2 separate regions of the Homo sapiens genome follow, and region 2 is linked to region 1. Evidence: fine-mapped expression QTL. A gene starts in region 1. The other region holds a variant in brackets. All regions are shown on one strand. Distances are between the middles of the regions.

Region 1 (10,668 bases):
CTGAAGCCCAACCTCCTCGGCACTATGTTCCAGAGTTCAACTCACCTGTCCATCTTCACCCACTGTCGAAAGTCCTCCTCCCCTACATATACCTGAGACTCCATCTTGCTTACCATTCCCCAGATGTGCCATGTGTTTATCCAGCAACTATTGGGCACCTCCTATGTGCCAGGCACCAGGCTAAACACTGGGCATGGAATAAGATCCCAACTCTACCCTCAAGGCATTCAGCAGACTGTGGAGACCGTTCCGTAAACAAGTCAAGATAATACAATGTGACAGGTGCTATAATAGATATAAGCAAGGTGTGCTGGGGGCAGAGGAGGAGGAGGGAGTGCCTATTGGCATGGGGGAGGGGTGGAGGGAGGGGAGGGGTATTAGGGAGGGCTTCCCTCAGGTGCTGAGTTTGATTTGTGGAGGAAAAAGGGTTATCTCTGCAGAGGCACAAGAGCAGTTCATGGGGGCTGGGTGACAGGAAGGTGGTGAACTCACAGTGAAAGCTGGCAGGTAGGAACAGGCTGTTTTGTGGACATGATTTCAGTGGGAGTGAGATCAGATGAGGACAAGGCGGAGGACAGATTTGAGGGCAAGGAGGGAGAGTTGGCAATTATCCAGGCAAGGAAGGGGATGATCGGGATGAAGGCTGTGGTAAGAGAATGTGGAAGAAGAGACAAATGCGAAAAGACAAGGCAGAGGAGATATTATCACTCTTAAGATCACAGAGTTTGGACGAAGGTAATTCCACCAGCAGCATGAAAAGGGAGTGAGGAGCAAGCTACTTGGGAGATGACCTTATTTTCAGAAACAGTGAATTTGGGATCTGGTGAGTCCCAAGGAGCATCGATGGGGAGCTCTCCAGTAGCCAGAGGGAAGCTTGGAACTGGGAAGGGAGGCAAGGGCTGAAGATACAGATTTCAAAAATATCTTAGAGAAAAAAACATGCTTATCCTTGGGCCCAGCAATTCTATTTGTAGGAATTTTTCCTAAGGATATGTGTAAATTTTTATTCATTTATTTATTTTTGAGACAGCATTCTCTCTATGTTGCCTAGGCTGGCCTCGAACTCCTGGGCTCAAGAGATCATCTCACCTCAGCCTCCTGAGTAGCTGAGATTACCAATGTGAGCCACTGTGCCCAGCTTGTGTGAAAATTTATCTACAGAAATGCTCACTGTTTATAATAGTAAAGGAGGGGAAACTTTTATTTATAAACTGCTATGACAGTGAAAAATGCCTAACAGTAGGGGATTGGTTAAATAAAGTATACTATACCCATGCAATTTGGACAGTAAAATGGATATTGTAGATGGATGCTTATTGACATGAAAAAAAATCCACAATATTTTGCTAAGTAGAAAATGGTAGACTCTAAAACTAATTGTAGAGTAAAAGATCCAGTTATTGTTTAAGAAAAAAATTAACATATTAATACTGGTTTTTTTTTTTTGAGATGGAGTCTTGCTCTTTCACCCAGGCTGGAGTGCAATGGTGCAGTCTCGGCTCACTGCAACCTCCACCTCCCGGGTTCAAGTGATTCTCCTGCCTCAGCCTCCCGAGTAGCTGGGATTACAGGTGCCCATGACCACGCCTGCCTAATTTTTGTATTTTTAGTAGAGATGGGGTTTCACCATGTTGGCCAGGCTGGTCTCGAACTCCTGATCTCATGATCCGCCCTCCTCAGCCTCCCAAAGTACTGGGATTATAGGCGTGAGCCACCGCGCCCGGCCAATACTGGTTCTTTGGTGATATGATTATGAGTGTGTTTTCTTTCTTTTTAATTTTTTTCCCACATCAATCATACATGGCTTTTGTTGTAAGACAATTATTTTTAAAAATTGAATAAAATTAAGAGGAATGACTTAGGGATAGCTCTGGGAATGAGAAGATGAGAGGATCAAGGATGGAACCTTGATCAATAGCCTTGATACCTCTGGCCCTGTGGCCCCTGTCCGTGCAGTTGACTATGTCTTGAGGGTGCCACCCATGTCATATCTGCTACATTGCTGCATGGTAGAATACAACGAGCAGACTGCTACAACTATGAGCTTTGGGCAAACTCATATATATATATATATATATATATAAATAATTTTATTTTATTTTTTTTGAGACAGAGTATTGCTGTGTTGCCAGGCTGGAGTGCAGTGGTGCAACCTTGGCTCACTGCAACTTCCACCTTCTGGGTTCAAGCAATTCTCCTGCCTCAGCCTCCCAAGTAGCTGGGACTACAGGCACACACCACCACGCCTAGCTAATTTTTGTATTTTTAGTAGAGACAGGGTTTCACCACGTTGGCCAGGATGGTTTCGATCTCTTGACCTCGTGATCCGCCTGCCTTGGCCTCCCAAAGTGCTAGGATTAGAGTCGTGAGCCACCATGCCCGGCCTTTTTATTTTTTATTTTTTTTTTGAGACAGAGTCTCATTCTGTCAACCAGGCTGGAGTGCAATGGCATGATCTCGGCTCACTGCAACCTCCACCTCCCGGATTCAAGTGATTCTCCTGCCTCAGCCTCCAGAGTAGGATTACAGGCTCACACCGCCACGCCCGGCTAATTTTTGTATTTTTAGTAGAGACGGGTTTCACCATGTTGGCCAGGCTGGTCATGAGCGCCAGACCTCAGATGATCTGCCTGCCTCAGCCTCCCAAAGTGCTGGGGTTACAGGCATGAGCCACCATGCCTGGCTGGACAAACTTTTTGATTCCCTAAGTCTGTTTTCTCATCTTTATAGTGGGGATAACCTTCCTCAGAATAGTTATCTGACAATAAAATGTTTACAGACATACAACAGTTGCTTAGTAAATATTAATTAGTCCATCCTCCCTTTCTTAGACATCCTTCCCTGCTAGACCCAGGTTTGACTTCCAGGCCCTTGTTTGGCCCTCACAGTGGGAAGTGACACCCCCTCTCTCTGAATGCCCGAGGTGCTGTTTGCACTTCTATTGAACCCAGAACTTTGCTCTGACCTAGAGATAGTGGCTAGCTCTTCTCCGTCACTGACTTGTTCGACTTGTTCCCGGTCTAGAGTTTGGTCATCTCTCTATCCTGGTAGCAACTAGCACAATGCTTTGTACATTGAGGGTTCTCTAGAATTTTTATTGACTAAATTCATGTTTTTTTTTACAACTTGGCTAATAGTGGAATACTCAAAGGCTGGATTACCCAAGGGTTAGTTTATTCTGACCTCTTGGAATTTTTCTCCTCCCAATTTGTAACTCTGGCAAGGTTTATCTTCCAGTCTGCAGAGATGACCAGCAGAGAGAGACAAAGAAGGAAGCTCACTTAGACCTCTAGGCTCCCTGTCAGAAGCTCTGGGGAGAGAGTTGGAGGATGAAGAAGGGGAAAGTAAAAGCTGTTTACCCCCAGGCTGGGTAGGAGTGTGGTCTCCCACCTCTCCAGGGTTTAGACTGTCAGAACTCCAGCAGGACAGCTTGGGGGCAAAGGGAATTGGGTAGACACATCATTCTACAGGCCTACGTCCTTTTTGCCTAGCAGTCGAATCCTTCTCTCCATTCCTGCCTCTTGTGGCTGGTGCTGTGTATCTAGCCATTTTCCCCTTCCCCTGCTTCCCCCCAAGTGGGCACGCCAGCTTGCTCAGGTGCCCATCCTTCCTGCTAACACCTTGTTAGGTTAGGGAGGCAGTCTGGCGCTGACGAAGGACCTTTGGGTGCCAAGTTAGTAGACCTGTGTGACCTATAGCAAGTTGAATAAGCTCCCAGAGCCTCAGTTTCTGCATCTATAAGCTGGGAATAGCTACACGGTCTCTGTCCTCTGTCTCATCCTAGGATTACTGACGGGAACCAAGTGAGATTTATGAGACTTTACGAACAGGCAAAGAGCGCTTTATAAAAGCCAGGTGTTTCCAGTGTTCACTGTGGGGCTTTCTCCTGGTAACTACCCACCAAAGCCTCCCTGTCCGCCCCGCCCCGGCTGCATCGGCCTCACCCACTGCATCACCATCTTTTCCATCACTGTCTTCCTGCGTCTCAGAAGTCCTGTTTCTGCATCTCCCCTGTCCATTTCCGGGTCTGGCTCTCCGGCCCCTGAGACCCCTCCAGGGACTCTGTTCTCCTTCTCCTTGAGGCACTCGCTGCCCAGGCGCCCCCCACCCGGTGCGCCCTCCTTTGGCACAGCCGCCGGGCCAGAGAATCGCCCAATAAGAGCGCCGGACTGTAGTCTGACAGCTCCGGAAGCGGCCAATCGAGCCGGGCCAGGGAAGGGGGGCGCAGCGCCGGGGCTGAAGTTGGGTTAAATGGGGGGAGGGGGATTAAAGGGGGATACAAAAGAGGGGAGCTAGGACTGGGGGCGCTGGAGCCCTGGCCGGGGGCGGGGGAAGACCGCGCTCCACCCAGGTCTGGTGACGGGACCGCAGGCTGGATGCGGCTCCTAGTCCCAGGGAGGGAGGGGCGCAGCGAGAATTTTAGGTGAGGAAGGGGAACTGGGGTGCCCGCGGCCAGGCCTGAGGATGCCCGCGGGGCGCCGAGGCTGGGGCCATGGCCAGGCCGGGGGCGGAGGCGGCCTCGCGCGGCTGTGAGCCGAGGCCCGGGCGGCGCGGGGGGCGGGGAGGCAGCGGGAGGAGGGGATGCGGAGGGCTCTCCGGCGGCGGCGAGCGGGCGAGAAGGGAGGAGCGGCGCGAGCGGCCGGAGCGGCGCAGGGCCCGAAGCGTGCATGGCGCGCCCTGAGCCGGGCTCCCGCGGGCCCCCCCGGAGCGCCTCTCGGGCGCCGCGGCTCTCAGGCGGGCCCCTCTGGGCCGGCTGCTTCTGAGCCCCGGCGCTGGATCTCTGGATGCCTTACTCCCCGGGAGAAGCCTGCCTGCGTCGGGGCAGAACCGCGGCAGCGCTGCGCCGGATTCCGTCCTCCGCCTAGTCGTTCCGCGCCGGCCGCGGTGGGCCCGCAGCCGGCGACGAGGAGCTTGGGGCTTGCGAAGCGGGCGCGACAGCTCTCCGGGCCGGCAGGTCCCGGCCGGCCCCGCTCCGTTTGCGGGAAAGGGAGAGGCGAGAGGGGAAGGGCCGCACCGCAGGAGCCGGTCCCTGACCCGGACCCCGCCCCCTGCGCGGACGCGCCGAAGGCTCGGCTCGGCTTTCGCCGGGGCCACGCATCCACTCTCGCCGCGAGAGGTGGGGGATGCGGGCAACGGCCCCCCCGGGCTCCAGGACCCTCCCCCCCGGGGCTCCGGAGCTGTTGCTCCGCCCGTCGCCCCCTCCCCCGTCCTCTCCACCTCCCATCCCACCTCCCCACCCCTCGTAAGAAAATAATGCTGGCTGGCGCCCGCACCTCCCAGTCGCTCCCAGTCCGCTGCGAGGAAAGCGCACCCGCAGTGTCTCTTCGCCGGGACCCCCGCCGAGCCGCCCTCGCCGCCGCCGAGCCCCGAGAGCAGCTGGGCTCCGCTTAGGCGGAATCAGCGAGCGCCGCGCCCGGGCACTGCCGGCCCGAGGAGGCACCGCCCGCAAGGACACCACTCCGTCCCGTCTCGTCCGCAACTCCGGCCCTCGTCGAGCTCGACGCGAGCCAGGATCCCGGACGTCTCTCCGCGTGCGGCGCAGCAGCAGCCAGACCAGTCCCTGCGACCCCACCTCGGAGGCAACTCCATTTCGGACCTGGGACTTCTGACGCGGATCCTCAGCTACTTCTCACCTCGGGGCTGTGCCCTCCTCCTCCGCTCAGGACGGGGGTGCCAAGATGCCCCGCTGCAGCGCAGGGCCCCGGGCCGCCCCCGACGTGTGACCCTAGCCTGGTCCCCCTGCTCGGCCGTCCGCCCTCCCCTTGGAGACCCCCGGCCCGGCTTCCGGGGGAGGAGGAAGGAGACGACGAGGCCGAGGGGGGGATGTCCGGCTCCAAAAGCGTGAGCCCCCCGGGCTACGCGGCGCAGAAGACTGCGGCGCCGGCGCCCCGGGGAGGCCCCGAACACCGCTCTGCGTGGGGCGAGGCCGATTCCCGCGCGAATGGCTACCCCCATGCCCCCGGGGGCTCTGCCCGCGGCTCCACCAAGAAACCCGGGGGGGCGGTGACCCCGCAGCAGCAGCAGCGCCTGGCCAGCCGCTGGCGCAGCGACGACGACGACGATCCTCCGCTGAGCGGTGACGACCCCCTGGCCGGGGGCTTCGGCTTCAGCTTCCGCTCCAAGTCCGCCTGGCAGGAGCGCGGCGGCGACGACTGCGGTCGCGGCAGCCGCCGGCAGCGGCGGGGCGCGGCCAGCGGGGGCAGCACCCGGGCGCCCCCTGCGGGCGGCGGCGGCGGCTCGGCGGCGGCGGCTGCCTCGGCGGGCGGGACGGAGGTGCGCCCTCGCTCGGTGGAGGTGGGTCTGGAGGAGCGGCGGGGCAAGGGGCGCGCGGCCGACGAGCTGGAGGCCGGCGCCGTCGAGGGCGGCGAGGGGTCCGGGGATGGCGGCAGCTCGGCGGACTCGGGCTCGGGCGCGGGGCCCGGCGCGGTGCTGTCCCTGGGCGCCTGCTGCCTGGCGTTGCTGCAGATATTCCGCTCCAAGAAGTTCCCGTCGGACAAACTGGAGCGGCTGTACCAGCGCTACTTCTTCCGCCTGAACCAGAGCAGCCTCACCATGCTCATGGCCGTGCTGGTGCTCGTGTGCCTGGTCATGTTGGCCTTCCACGCGGCGCGGCCCCCGCTCCAGCTGCCCTACCTGGCCGTGCTGGCGGCCGCCGTCGGCGTGATCCTCATCATGGCTGTGCTTTGCAACCGCGCCGCCTTCCACCAGGACCACATGGGCCTGGCCTGCTATGCGCTCATCGCCGTGGTGCTGGCCGTCCAGGTGGTGGGCCTGCTGCTGCCGCAGCCACGCAGCGCCTCTGAGGGCATCTGGTGGACCGTGTTCTTCATCTACACCATCTACACGCTGCTGCCCGTGCGCATGCGGGCCGCAGTGCTCAGCGGGGTGCTCCTGTCCGCCCTCCACCTGGCCATCGCCCTGCGCACCAACGCCCAGGACCAGTTCCTGCTGAAGCAGGTAGGGGCCGACCTGGCCACCGGGACTGGATTGCGGGGCGGGCAGGCCTCAGCTGGACTCCAAAGAAAGGGATCCCACCCTCACCCTTTCGAATGGTGAAAAGAGCCAGAGAGACAGGGCTCGGCCATGTAGGCTATTTGGGAGCTTCTTACCCCACTCTGAGCCCCAGCGGCTTCATTTACAAAAAGAGTGCCCTTGTGTCGTTTGCAGTGTTCCTTGCCCCTTAGATAACGTGTACTGAACTGTAGCCATCACTGTGGGAATGCAGTGAGGAAGGTTGGAGGAGAAAATTATAAGGAGTGTTTCCCATCTCTTCCTGAGCTTCTGTTCCTATATACAAAAGGCCCCTAACGAAAGTGGCTGGACCCTCTAGCAGCCACCCCCTCGTGAGTGCCACTGCTGCTTTGTTAATCCAGCCCTGGATAGAGGGTTGGTGAGGGGACACCCTGCACCCCTTGCTCAGTGGTAAGGAGGAGGTAGCATGAGCCTGCCACCTGTCTAAGGCTGGGGATTTGGTAGCTGGAGATATCCCTGAACTTGCAGAAGGACTGACAAGTTTGTTTCAGTTAGCAGAGCGCCCCAAGCCAAAAACCTGCCCTTCGCTAAAGTGGGAAGGAGCCTCCGAGATGTGTGTGGTGGCAATTCCCCTTCCGGCCTGAGCAGAAAGCTGTTGTTGAACATCATGACCCCTTCAAGTGGGTGCCCCTGGTCATTGCTTGTGGTAGGGACATTTTATCCCTGCTGGGATTTGTTGGGTGAGTCTAGAACTGCAGGTTCAGGAAGAAATACAACTTTTGCCTGGTTAGCTGGTGACTCTCTTAAAGGCTTCTGTGAGAGGGGCATGTTGGCTATCCTGACCTCAGGGTGAGAGGAGCCCCCCTGCCATCCATACCATATCTCCCTTTAGTGTCCTGTGGTCTGGTTTCCTGGTCCTCATCCATGATTGCTTCTGAACCTGCTTGTTTGCATGCTGCTCCACTGTGAGAGTCCACTGGGCCCTTGCTACAGGCAAGTCTCTTCACCTTGGACCCCAGTGCACACATCTGCCCACTGGTGTCTGCCTTCTCGAATAGAACCTCTTAAGGGTTTTCCATTGTCATTGCCTTCCTCTGTCTCCCCTCTTCTAGTGCCTTCTCTTAGACTTTTATCCTCTTGAGTACCGCATCTTTCTTGAGTTGCTCTCCTGTGTCCCCTGGCTTCCTGGACATAGTATTCTTCCATAGAGAATAGCACTGTTATGGGTTTCAGGGCTCTGGGCTCTAGCTGAACCTGCAGGGTGCTCTGTGACTGGGACGGAGGGGACACACAAGCTCTCTGGGCCTTTGCTACCTTTTCTAGAGAATGAGAGGAATGTTTATGTCCCTTCCACTTCTAACGTCCTCTGCCCCAAGCTGTACCCCTGCAAGGAACCTTCTTCTTCCATTCCAGCCACACTGACCTCGTGGTCTTCTGTATGATTAACAATAGAGTCAGAGGCACAGAGTGGAGCACTTATTCATTTTCCAGTGTCCACTTGTTTTGCTGTCTGTCCAGTGTAACCTCCATGGATGCACAAATCCCAAGGTGTATGTGTTTTTCCTCCTCTATTCTCTCACCCTTACCTAAGCACAGTGCAGAATACTTAGTAGGGATTTAATAACTGCTTGCCAATATAGTTGGGGTCCAGTGAATGGAGTAAGTGGGGCTGTTGATGCTAAGTTAAAAGTTTTTTCAGATCTGAGATGAGAAGAAAAAAAAAATCTTTAGAGACCAGCTTTGCAGAAGACTTTTGAGAGGTGGTGGTTTAAAAGTTACTACCATTGTTAGTGCTTATAAAAGCCCCAACTCTTTTGACCCGAGGACTCGTGCTTTCAGATGGTTGTTGTATCTTTGGGGACTGCTCCTGATTTGGGTGGATGTAGCTTTTCTGCAGAGGAAGGGGCATGTCATCCATATGGAGATTTTCAGGATAGTTCAGGGTATTTTGTGAACCAGACTTGGGACACAGGGTCTGATTACAGCTGTAGGTATGGTTTCTCCTGAGGGGGGTTGGAGTCAGATCCCAGGAAAGGGGTGCTGAGCCTTGGGGGGGGCCCCAATTCCACCTTAGCATGAAAATACCATTGCAGCAACAGAGTGTCTGTCTGACTGACTTCTCCTTCTGGTTCCTTAGGCAAATCCCTCTCCCTTCTCTCCCCACCCCCACTGGCTCCTACCCTGTTCTTTTACCCACTGTGGTCTTTAGACTTTTGCAAGGCTGTAGGATTTTGGGTGGATTTACACTTACTTTATATGATCTTCCCTGAGTGGTGCAGAGCTTGTTATGAGTGGTTCAAGACAAGGGAATGCAAACATTTCCTCTATTTGGCTTCAGAGAAAACTGTATCTTTTTTTGTTTGTACTTGATTTACCCTTTTGATTATGCCTCATATAAAATTTGTCTTTCTTGAGCAAACCCTGCTGGCTGGTGGGGGAAGTCCAGCATTAACCTCTGCCTCAGGTTACTCCAGAACAGCAGGCATGTAAGAGTGGTTGGGATTAGATGCCTTGTTCTTTTCTTTGTTGAGACACATGTCCAGGGAAATGGGTGGCAATGAGCAGTTCCTATGTTGGGGCTTTGGGAATTCCCCCTTCGGTGGCTTGGACACATAGTAGGCCCTCAGTAAACTGGACTGGCATTTCTTCACTGCTCCTCTTGCAAGGCTGGACCTCTCCCCCTTTACTCAGGTCCTCAACATCATTATCTGACCTGTGTATTTTATTCTTCTTCAGCCTCTCTTATGTGTGGGGCTCTGCCCTTGGCTCCAATTAGGAGAAGCATTTGGTTTCTTAACCAGTGGCTCCTGACAGTTTTGACTCAAGGGAGGAACAGGACACAAGGTGCCACAGCCCCTCTTGGTGGGATGGTGTTTCTTCCCTTCTCCATCCCTCTGGCTCTGTCCATAGTGTTTGTCACCCTCCCCCTCGGCTCCTTCTCTCTCTCTGCCTGCTCCTTTCCTCTCTGACTTCCTTTCTCTTCCCTCTCCCTCTGATCCCTGTTACTGTCTGCCCACCTCACCTCTCTGCTGCCTTCCTGCAGGCTCTGCTTTCCCATCTCTCCCTCCCTGTTCGAGGCCTCTCAGCCTCTGCTGTGCTCTTGTCTCACTGTCGACTCCTGTCTCCTCGCTGGGGTATAGTAGGAGCGTCACGGGGTTGTTTTTTTCTCCTCCTTTGCCTGTTAGAAGTCCCTCTGCTACACCCATACCATAAATAACACTGGAGCATCTGCCAAACACATTCCTCACTTGTGTTAATAGGCTGCAATGATGCTGGAGCCTGTTGCCATGGCAACCTCATTTTTGTTTGACTGTATCCCACTCTGCTACATAAAGCTTCTGCACGCACTCACACAAAAACAAGCATGCTCACACAACTATTACATATGCTTAGCTATTAACGATTATTTTGGAGAAGGTATCGTTGTGCCCTGTGGGGTGGGGTGGTCATTTGCACTCCAGGAGATTAGCAGCAGCTCTATGGTCTGGACTCTAGGTGATGATGGATGGAAGAGCTCTTTGAAAAGTGGAGAGTCCTGTTCAAATATGGGGTATTATTATTATGCATCCACATTCAATCTGCCTGACATGGTTTCTGAGGAGAAGATTCTGACCCCGCATGGGTCCCCGTGAGCTTGGGGGAGCCACTAGGGGTTTTCCCTGCAGTGTGGGACAACCCATCTCCCACCCCACCCTG
Region 2 (10,668 bases), 300 kb after region 1:
AGAGATGAAGAGCGCTGTCCTTACCTTTCGGTCATCTTTGAAGGCATCAGCAGTAGCAGTAAAGTGCGGAATGACCTTCTTACAGTGTGGGCACCCTGTGTGAGAGGGGAAGAGAGCACACAGGACTGTGATGCATGTGCAGGGAGGCTGCAGGGCCAGGGACCCTTCCTGAAAGCTCCAGAGAGGGCTCTCCAGGAGCTCCCCACTGCCCGCCACACTGTCAGGGTCCTTTTGTCAACCTTGCCACTCTAACCACCTCCCACCCATGTCTGATCTATTGGTAGGGGGGACTGGTAGGAGTCCCTGTCACAAGCATCATATGCTCCTGCCCAGGCTGGGGGGCGATGGTCACTGTAGTCTAGTTCTGCTCCTTCCACAGAGGACGAGGAACAGCCTGATCTTGGGGGCAGAGGGAGCTTTGGGCTTAAAGAGGAAGGCACGGGATTCTCAGAGCCGCTACAATCTTCTCTTGCTCCAGGGACAATAGCAAATCTCTCCATTTCCTGACTGAGAGGAAGTGGCGTTGGGAAATGCAGGGTGGGGGGATTTTGGGGCAACTACTCTGCACCCACTGCTCATGATTTGCTGCTAACTTCTGCATTCCTAGCAACCTCCACCCAGCCCAGACTGTGAGCAGCCAAATCAGGCCCTGGTCCCCAGGTCTCCATCTACTCTTTGCTCTACAATAACCAGAACCTCAAAGCCAGGAACAGGAAGGCCATGGTCAGGGTAAGAGGGAGAGGAGCTACGGGAAGTCACCAGGCAGTCCTCAGGTCCCTTGATGCTCCCTGTCCCAGGGAGAAGGCTTGTCAGAGCAGCCTAAGGCCTTTGAGCTATACTGGGGCCCCTACCTCCAGCATCTGTCTCTTGTTCTGGGCATCACCCTGAGCCCCAACTCTGACCTCAGTGTCTCAGAAGCAGGGTAGGGACCTCTGTGGGGGCCACTTTCTCCTCCTGTCCTGGTGAGCCCAGGAGCTGCAGGCTGATCCAGCCCTTCCCTCAGCACTAACAGATCAGAACCCAAACCCCCCTCCTCTCTCAGCCCTTTCCCAGTCACTGGTGAACAGAACTGTCCAGGGCACAGAAGGGCTCTGAGGGGAGGGTTTCCCTGAGCAAGGGGAGGCTCCAGCCCACACCTCTACGTCAGCCAGCCTCCCTCAGCCTCGGGAAGGCAGAGATGCCACGGTGGGAACAGAAACGGCTTTGCTCATCTACTTTCTCCTTTTTAAAATAAGATAATAATGACTGGCATTTCAAAGGGTTTTGTGAAACCAAATTAAGGCTAAGCTACAAGTTTAATCTGAATTTAGTCCTTGAGCCAGTCTTGAGATGAGCAGGACCACCCACATGGCCTGGCTGGCAGAGTGGCCAGCTGGCCCAGAGCATTGTGGGGGGTGATGGGGGGTGGGGGTGTAGAGGGCTTTGCCAAGTCTCATGCAGAAGGAGCAGAAGAGACCTGGGCCAGTGATGGGTTATATCAGAAATGAGACAAGCACAGCTTAGCAATGTGCCTAGCACAGCCTAGCTCATGGCAGAGACTGGATGATTTTTTAATAGCCTAAAATGGAAATTACAAGTAACACTTCACTAATTTGACATAACAGAAAGAAAAATAGCTCAAATTCATGAAAATGTCACACTATAAAGGGATGATGTTATAAAATTTTCAAAACACTTAAAGAGCGCAATCTACTGGTTAACAAGGTATGTCACAGACAGCTCCTGCAGGCAGCTGCAGGCCCCTTGTGTGTGGCCTATGCCCATAATAGCATTAGGCTGGCGAAAATAACCACCCCCCTTCCTCAAAACCTGGTTTCACTATTAATTTTTCCTTTTTAACCTCTTTGTTCATTGAAAGTCTAAAGGTAACTGTCAGCCTAGTGTAAATTCCTGTTACCATCAATTTAAAATATCTAGGCCTCAGATTAATGGCTTTCTGTTGCATCTAATTTTCTCATTATCCGAAAGAAAGAGTGGGGCCAATGAGTAATGGGAGGGAGGGCTGTTTCAGAAAGTGCATGAAGATGCTTCCAAGAGGTGTCAGGAGGGCCAGATGTGGATGATTTTTTTTATTTAATGTAGGCTTAAAAAAAAAAAAAAGGCACTGCCTCTGTGTAGCAGAAAACCAAAGACGCCTCCCAGAGTGGGGAAAGAGGAACAAAGACTGAGGACAGGCTGGACAATTGCAGTTCTAGAGACTCCGCCAAGCTGGCCTGAGAAGGGCAGTCACCATGACCAGACCATTCAGCGTAAAAGGAACAATGAAACAGCAGGAGGAAGAGCTGTGCAGAAGCTGGGGAGACAGGATGCAGGGGCAGACATGGTGGGAGAAGGGATGTGGGAGGTGGAGAGATGTGAGGGGAGGTAAGATGTTGGGGTGAGGCAGCTAGAAGGGGAGCAGGAACGTGTGGGTATGCTGCTTTTCCTTTAGACCTCTATCAGGCATTTGACTTTACTATTTGACATTTCTGTAGTGTTTAGATCCTTCATATATAAAAAGTATATAGTATATGCCATATTTATATATAAAAATAGGTATTATTATTTTCATTATTAAAAAGTCAAAAGATGTATCTTTTTTGTCCTTGGAAAGTCTTCCCCCTGTAACCCACTGATAAAGATGTATGTCCCTGGGGCAAGGTTTAGGGACAGAAAAACGCAGTAACAGAAATGAAGAAACTCTAAGGACCAAGCCCTCTGCCAGAGGTTGAGTCACTCAGTGACCCTGCCCTGGATGGATTGTGTTTAGAATTTTGTCAGGGTAGACAGTGAGCCCCTCAAGGCCTGGCAGGGACATGTCTCCCTCCCTTGTACCCTGGGCCCTAGACACTGCACAGCACAGAGCTGATATTTGATGGGTAGGTGGAAGACAGGTGGGAAGGCAGGCGGGAAGGCAGGCAGGCTGGAAGGCAGAAAGGAAGGCAGGCAGGAAGGAAGGCAGGAAGGAAGGAAGGAAGGAAGGAAGGCAGGAAGGCAGGAAGGAAGGCAGGAAGAAAGGCAGGCAGGAAGGAAGGCAGGCAGGAAGGAAGGCAGGCAGGAAGGAAGGCAGGAAGGAAGGAAGGAAGGAAGGCAGGAAGGCAGGAAGGAAGGCAGGAAGGAAGGCAGGCAGGAAGGAAGGCAGGCAGGAAGGAAGGCAGGAAGGAAGGAAGGCAGGAAGGAAGGCAGGCAGGAAGGAAGGCAGGCAGGAAGGCGGGCAGGAAGGAAGGAGGGCAGGAAGGAAGGCAGGCAGGCAGGAAGGCAGGCAGGCAGGCAGGCAGGAAGGCAGGCAGGCAGGAAGGCAGGCCAGGCAGGCAGGCAGGCAGGCAGGCAGGCAGGCAGGCAGGCAGGCAGGAAGGAAGGAGTTGTAGATCTTTGGCAGCCCAAAAGGGTAAGAGTCTCTCCCAGATTCCCTGGGGATTCAAGCACCTGTCGGTCCCAGCAGCCAGGGTCAGGGTGGCGGGGGGCTTATGTCTGCTATGAAGGCCCCTCAGTCAGGGAGGAGCTGAAGAGAGGCAGAGGAAGCACTGGGCTCTGGTCCAGAGGTCTGGGGGAAAGTATTTCGTCTGGTCAAGGGCTTCCACTCCTGCAGCCAGGTTCTCACTTGCTGCTGAAAACACTCTCACTCTCTGGACTGTGCCTGTGACATAGAGAGAGCCATCCAGGCTGCGGGAGGGGCCTGCCACTAACTTGCCCCATGGCCTTGGGCAAGGCTCAGTCCTCCACCCCCTAATGCCAGAGGGAAGATGTCAGCTCCCGAAAATTTTCAGGCTTCTGGGCACACTCTACAGACCGAAGAGGACAGCCGGAAGCTCTGTAAGGGACTGGGAGAGGACAAGTCCCACTCTGAGAAGGAAAGGCAGAAAGAGATGGGCAGGGAGGCTGCCTCAAGGAGGGGCTGAGGCTGTGGCGGCCCCTCTCAGACCCTGAGAACACACAGACTCCACGGATTACTGACACTTGAAAGGTGGGGACGGGGGAGCCAACAGGAGGGCCAGCTACAACTGAGCAGGTTTATGGCTAGATGGAGCTGCCTGGCTTCTCTGTAGACTGCAGCTTTTATTATCCTCACTCCATTAAGCTGAGCTGTAACCTGGGGGAGAGAGAGAAGGGCAGCAGAGAGTGGGAAATTCTAAGAACCTTTCATTGTAAGTATCAATTAACAACTTCAAAATGGGAATACACAGAAACCTGAGGTCACCGATGCCAATGTCGGCAGACGTGTCACTTCCTCAGCTTGAGCTCTGATTAAAACGAGCACAGCACAGGAGCTCAGGAGCGAATGTGGCTGTGCCTATGCCACGGCTCCAGAGCCATCTGGAAGGGCAGGGAGAGGGGGTTCCAAGGTGCTGAAGATAAGTCAGTGTCTGGAGAAGGAAGAGGGGGCGGGGACAGCTGAGGGGTGGGAAGTGTGCAGGTAGGGGACAGGGGCATGGAGGAGCCCAGGGACAAGAGGGGACGAGCACAGAGGCAGAGGGCTTTAGGACAGACACGAGAAAGGCTGCCCCAAAGGAAGGAGAGCCCGACGAGTCTGACAAAAGGAGGCCCTGGATTTGAAGGACCTCTTAGCCTGGAATAAAATTGGAGAGCCTGGTTCATAATGGAGATGACCCTGGGATCCATCAGCGGCTGCCTTGGTCCCTGGGGTGGGTGTGCGGGTCTTTTTGGTTTGGTGGGGCCAAACCCCTCTTACTGTGCCACTCAGTGAGCACCCAAGCTACTTACAAGGGGCGTAGAACATGACCAAGGTGTGTTTCTTCTTCTTCAGGGTCTCCCGGAAGTTGTCCCCCACCAGGTGCAACACGCTTGTCTGCTGCTCTTCCCACGTGGGCTCTGGGGGCGGGGGGGCCTCAGGGCTGCAAGAAGCCAGGGGAGTGGGGAGGCAGCCATAAGGAGAGATTTTTAGATGGGCAAGGAAATCCACCCTCAATGTCCCAACCACTCGGGGGAACATGCATGAAGAAACCACTACAATCCTTCTAAAATTTCATTTTAAAACCACAGTTTAAACACAAACAAATCTGTGCCACCAGCAAAGACCTTCCCTGATTCCCTCTGAGGAGCCCATTAAGGAGCCATTTTGTAAAATATGGAAGACTTGACACCATTTCAGGTCAGGGCAGCCCCCCCAGTTGTGGGCCACGAACTCCTTGACAAGAGCATAGAGGCACCTCTGCTTGGACTCCCAGGCCCCTCCTTTCTGCCCCCTCTAGGACCCTACATGATCGTTCATTATCTTCTGGTTCTCAGCTTCTGTTCTGGTGGAGAGCATGGGCCAAGGAGTGAGGCGGGCCTGGGTTCAAGTCCAGATGACTTACCAGCTGTGCAACCTTAGGTAAGTTACTAAACCCCTCTGAGCCTCCGTTTTCTTTTCTGTTAAATGAGGACAATGGGATCTTTATGAAGAGCAGAGAATGTATGAAAAGCATCTACTCAGTCAAGGAACTAATATTTACTGAGAGCCTAGATGCTCTAATAAATGCCAGGCATTGGATAAATGTTATTGCTTCTCAGTCTCTTGCTGTCCACTGGGTCCCTCCACTCTGCCTCATGCAAGGATGGATCTCCAGGGTCTTGCAATAGCTTTTGCTCCCCTGCTTCCCTCTCTATAACTCAGCTCCCCTTCTTGGGAGTATTTCTGGGGAGAGGGCTACACCCACGCTGCCACGTCTCCCACTGGGCTTGTGCCACAGCCCCTGCACCAGCTGAGTGCAGCCCTCTCTGTGCTTCCAGTTCTATTCTGAGCCCTTGCAATTCTCAAAGATCTCATTCCTCTGCATGGCTCCAGTGATTTCCATGGCTGAGAAGAACTTAAGGCCTCACCTCTCATCCAAGCTCCTTATTTCCAGGTGTTTTTCAGGCATTTCCAGCTGGAAGTCCCATTGTAACCTCAAATCCACCATGACTTAGAACACATTACTCTTCCCTCCTCCTCCCAAATCAGTCTCCCTGCCTCTCACCTTCTCCTGTGCTGGTGACTAAGACGGGCCCCTCCCAGCCTTCCTCCCTGTCTTTGTCCTCCAGCTTCTCTGGTTCCATGGCTGACACCACTCATCTGACCTTTCTGCTCTGCCTTTTCCCTGAACACTGCCTCCCCAGGCTGGCCTGCTGGCAGG[C/T]GCATCTCAGTTACCCACAGCCTGGCAGCCTATGCACCTGCCTGTAAATGCCATCCACCTTTTCTGGCGCTGTCTGCTCGCCCTGCTTCTGGGTGACGAGTCTCAGTTCTCCACCCCCGAGCCATCGGCTGTTCACACTCCACCTGAAGGATCCCCTCCAAGTTCCCGGAAGAACTACTATTTGTCCCTGGATAGGGCCCTTAACCTCTCTGAACCTAAGTTTCTTCACCAATGAAATAGGAATTAAAAACTCTGGCCTCAGCAGGACTTGAGGATGAAATGGAGCAAGAGATAGGAGAGCATTCTGCAAAGGCTGGCTGCTGTGATCACTTATGTATTGATACTGTCAGTCATGAGAAGTCCACAATCAGTCATAAAAATAGCTTCAACCTTTTTTTTTTTTTTAAGACAGGGTCTCACTCTGTTGCTGAGGCTGGAGTACAATGGCACCATCCCAGCTCACTGTAGCCTCAACCTCCCGGCTTCAAGCAATCCTCCCACCTCAGATTCCCAAAGTGCTGGGACTATAGGCGCACACCACCATGCCCAGGTAATTTTTTTGATTTTCGGTAGAGGTGGGGTCTCACTATGTTGCCCAGGCTGGTCTTGAACTCCTGAACTCAAGAGATCCTCCTGCCTCTACTTCCCAAAGTGCTAGGATTACAGCCATGAGCCACCGTGCCCGGCCAGTTTCAACTTTTTTGAGTACTTCCACATCATGTCCTGTGCTGAGCACTTTTCACAGGAGTCTCATTTAATTCCCTAGACAAGTCTATGGGGAAATTACTGTCTCCATCTTACAGATAGGAAACTGGGGCTTAGAGGCATCAAAGAAATGGCTCAGGGTCACGATCTCAGCCCAGGTCTCTCAGACTCCAAAGCCCATGCTCTTGACCTAAAAGCACTTAAGAAAGTATTTAAACCTGAAAGCACTTAGCCTGAGTGCTTTTCAGGCTCTCAGTAGCAGCAGTGGCACACAGAAAGGACAGAGGCCCCTCATGCTCGCTGTTTGTGGCCAAGACTCTGGAGCACTGATTAGTGATGATCGACACTCTGGATTCCCTCGGCTCTCTAACCAGAAGTCCAAGCATCACAGGGACCTGGCCAGATCCCCCGCCCCACCCAGTCCTTTCCAGTGAACCAGCCCTGGCACCAGAGCAAGGCTGGAAAAGTGGGTGTGAACAAGCCACTTACTTCAGACACCAGAAGGCCTTGAGGGGTAAGCAAGCACCTTGTGCCTTTCAGAGGCAAACCATCATTTTCCTCTGGTCCCTAAGACAAAGGCCTAGCTACTTTCCAAATCCTCCCAGTGGATGAGCAGGACAAAGTGGGAGAAGCTGAGGCCAGGATCTCATCAGTCCATTCATCTCTTGCCAGAGGCCTCCCCTGAATCTAGTGGCAACTTTGCTGCCATTCCACAAGCTGGTGTTGCTTAGAACACCATGGCTGAGGGTCCCATTCACACTTCCTGAATAAAAGAGTCTCAGAGTCTATGCTTTAAATAAACACCTCATATCTGACTGATGTCCTAACAAAGTAGCTCAGACCGTATAGGTTCAACTGTGTCCCCCTCTAATTCATATGTTGATGTCCTAACCCCCATTATCTCAGAATGTGACTATATCTAGAGATAAATTATCCCTTTAAAGGGATAATTCAGTTAAGATGAGGTCATTAGGGTGGGCTCTCATCCAACATGACTGGTGTCCTTATAAGAAGAGCAGATTAGGTCACAGATACATATAGAGGGGTGGCCATGGGAAGTCACAGGCAGAAGATGGCCAAGGGGAGGGGCCTCAGAAGAAACCAACCCTGCCAACATCTTGATCTCTGACTTCTAGCCTCCAAAATTGTAAGAAAATAGGCTGCACATGGTGGTTCACGCCTGTAATCCTAGCACTTTGGGAGGCTGAGGCGGGTGGATCACTTGAGCTCAGGAGTTCGAGACCAGCCTGGGCAACATGGTGAAACCCCGTCTCTACTAAAAATACAAAAAATTAGCCAGGCATGGTGGCATGTGCCTGTAATCCCAGCTACCTGGGAGGCTGAGGCAGGAGAATCGCTTGAACCTGGGAGGTGGAGGTTGCAGTGAGCCGAGATCATGCCTCCAGCCTGGGTGACTAAGTGAGACTGTCTCAAAACAAAACAAAACAAAACAAAATTGTAAGAAAATAAACTTCTGTTATATTGTTATATTATATTGTTGAGCCACCTGGTCTGTTACTTGGTTATGGCAACACTAGCAAACTAATACATAGGCTGAGGGGGCTCTTCAAAATCTTTATCCTCAGTTGCAAACCACCATAGCCTGCCCTGTGGACATTACTGGAGGCCCAGCCAACCACTAGCAAACCTGGACGAAATGAGTCTAGCTCTGGCTATGAAGAGCTGTGTCTCCTTCATTTATTCAAAGGGAGTGGAATAAAATGCAGACAATAAGATCTGGGCCTAAGGAGGCTGAGACAGAGAAAAAGCAACACACGGTTTAGTGCGTCGATGAAGCTGCGTCCAGAAGGACTGCCAGCAGTGACCTGATCAAGACACGTGATCAGCATATGAACGGTGGTTTTAGGGTTGAGGAAGTCAGATCCGTCTTGACTCCTACGGGCATGAGCCCAGGACATTGACCATAAAGTTTACTTCACCTCCTCAAGGTGGTCTCCAGGGGCCGCCAGCTGGCAGTTAGGATGTGCTACTGAGATCGTAACACTTACTTTTGCATCCACTCGAGAAACTTCTTCTTTGTCCTGAGCACAGGCACTGCGTATTTCTCTCCATTCTTAAAATACTTCAACGTAGGAAACTCTGAGATGTGGAATCTTTCTGCCAGGGCCTTGTTGACAGTGGCATCGACAGCTGCAAGGACACCAGAGCTCTGGGATGGGGGAAAGGCCAACCATGCATTACAGCCTCAGATGCGGTGCTGGTGGAACACAGGAGCCCAGACGCTGCCCCCACAACCCATCCTGGACCTGCTGGAATTTAACTGGGGTGGCTAGCCCAGTGGGCTCCCATATCCCAGGGAACAACTGAACATTGGCACGGCCATCATTTCTCATTTATGAGCTGAGATGAGGCTTTTGAATCTGCCCCACCAGCCACGTTGAGTAGATTGGCACCTGTTCCTGTTAGCCAGGGTCCCAGAGAAAAGAGGGAGCAGGCAGAGGTCACCTGGATGGGCACGGGAACATGGGCCAGTAGTCTTTCTGCCCCCTCTAGGATCCCATCTGTCTAAGATGTTCTACTTGGGCACACAGAGGTACTGCTGGCCTCCACGGACCACGGGAGCTGCAGCAGGGCTTGCAGGGGAAAGTCATAATGATTCCACCTGTCAGTGATTCTTTCAAAGAGAACGGTGAGGGGGAAGGAAAGGAAGCTTACATCCGCTTCTCCATGGAGGGCTTCTGCTGCCTTCTCAAACTCCGGCTTCATTTTCTTACAGTGGCCACACCCTGTGGGGAGAGATCAAGAGAAACCATTCTTATGGCACAGAGGCCCTCGGGATGCTCCCCTGCGCCGCCTCTGTAAGGCAGCTCAGTCCCATTCCCAGACACCTGAGAAAAGCAGCAGCAGCACCAGCTCAAAGAAAAGAAATATTTTGCATAATCCACCAGAAGTGGGTTGGGGTAGTGGGAAGGTACCCCAGACACAAAAATAAAACAACTGCATAAATAATACGGGCAACTGGTGTGCCAGGTACTGACCAGTGCCTTACAGCCTCATAACTACCCCACAAAGTAGGAACTGACATTATCTCCATTCTATGGATTAGACAATTGAGGCACCAAGAGGGCAGGTGACTGCCCAAGGCCATATACACAGCCATGGTCACAGAGCTGGGTTGAAAACCCAACCATCTGGTGAGAGGCCCTAGCTGCAGGCAGCGTGTAGGTTGTGGCACCATGCTGTGATCACCATCATCATCTTCTCTGGACAGAAGGCAGTCTGAGGCCTTGAGCTGGGCACAAAAATTCACAGAAGCATAAGTATGGGACATAATTACATTCTAATTGTCCCCATATGACATGATGGGAATTTTTTGGGATAGAAACTGCTCTGTCCTTTTCTTTCTTTTTTTTTTGTTTTGAGATAGAGTCTTGCTCTGTCTCCCAGGCTGGAGTGCAGTGGCGCCATCTCTGCTTACCGCAAGCTCCGCCTCCTGGGTTCATGCCATTCTCCTGCTTCAGCCTCCCACGTAGCTGGGACTACAGGCACCCGCCACCACGCCCGGCTAATTTTTTTTGTACTTTTTCAATAGAGATGGGGTTTCACTGTGTTAGCCAGGATGGTCTCGATCTCCTGACCTCGTGATCCACCCACCTCGGCCTCCCAAAGTGCTGGGATTACAGGCGTGAGCCACCGCGCCCAGCCTGCTCTGTGCTTTTCTTACAGCTGCATGAACACAGTAAGATGTCAGAAATAATAAAATTTGATGCATTAAAAAGAAATTAAGCACTTTGTGTAAATGACAGACCTTGACATTTGTACATTGTTTTCATTTTAATAGAAAGAGTACTTTCTGGCCTCTGATGCTGGAGGGACTGGGAGGTGAGGGGTCTGCAGACTGGCTCAGGAT

Evidence for each region. PIP is the estimated chance that this variant, and not a neighbour inherited with it, causes the effect.
Region 2: its variant is fine-mapped to the expression of ADCY5 in esophagus muscle (GTEx, PIP 0.97).

What each region holds. Positions count from the first base shown.
Region 1 is chr3:123,443,701-123,454,368 of GRCh38, reverse strand. It overlaps ADCY5 (adenylate cyclase 5), which reads left to right and starts at 5,279. Exons shown (of 21, transcript NM_183357.3): 1 at 5,279-6,957. The coding sequence starts at 5,824. RefSeq lists an enhancer at 6,218-7,117.
Region 2 is chr3:123,144,398-123,155,065 of GRCh38, reverse strand. It overlaps PDIA5 (protein disulfide isomerase family A member 5), which reads right to left. Exons shown (of 17, transcript NM_006810.4): 12 at 9,474-9,544; 13 at 8,807-8,967; 14 at 4,702-4,832; 15 at 25-95. Among named protein-coding and RNA genes, the nearest start is that of MIR7110, 12 kb to the left of the region's middle. RefSeq lists an enhancer at 438-938. The variant C/T (reference allele first, on the strand shown) is at 6,093.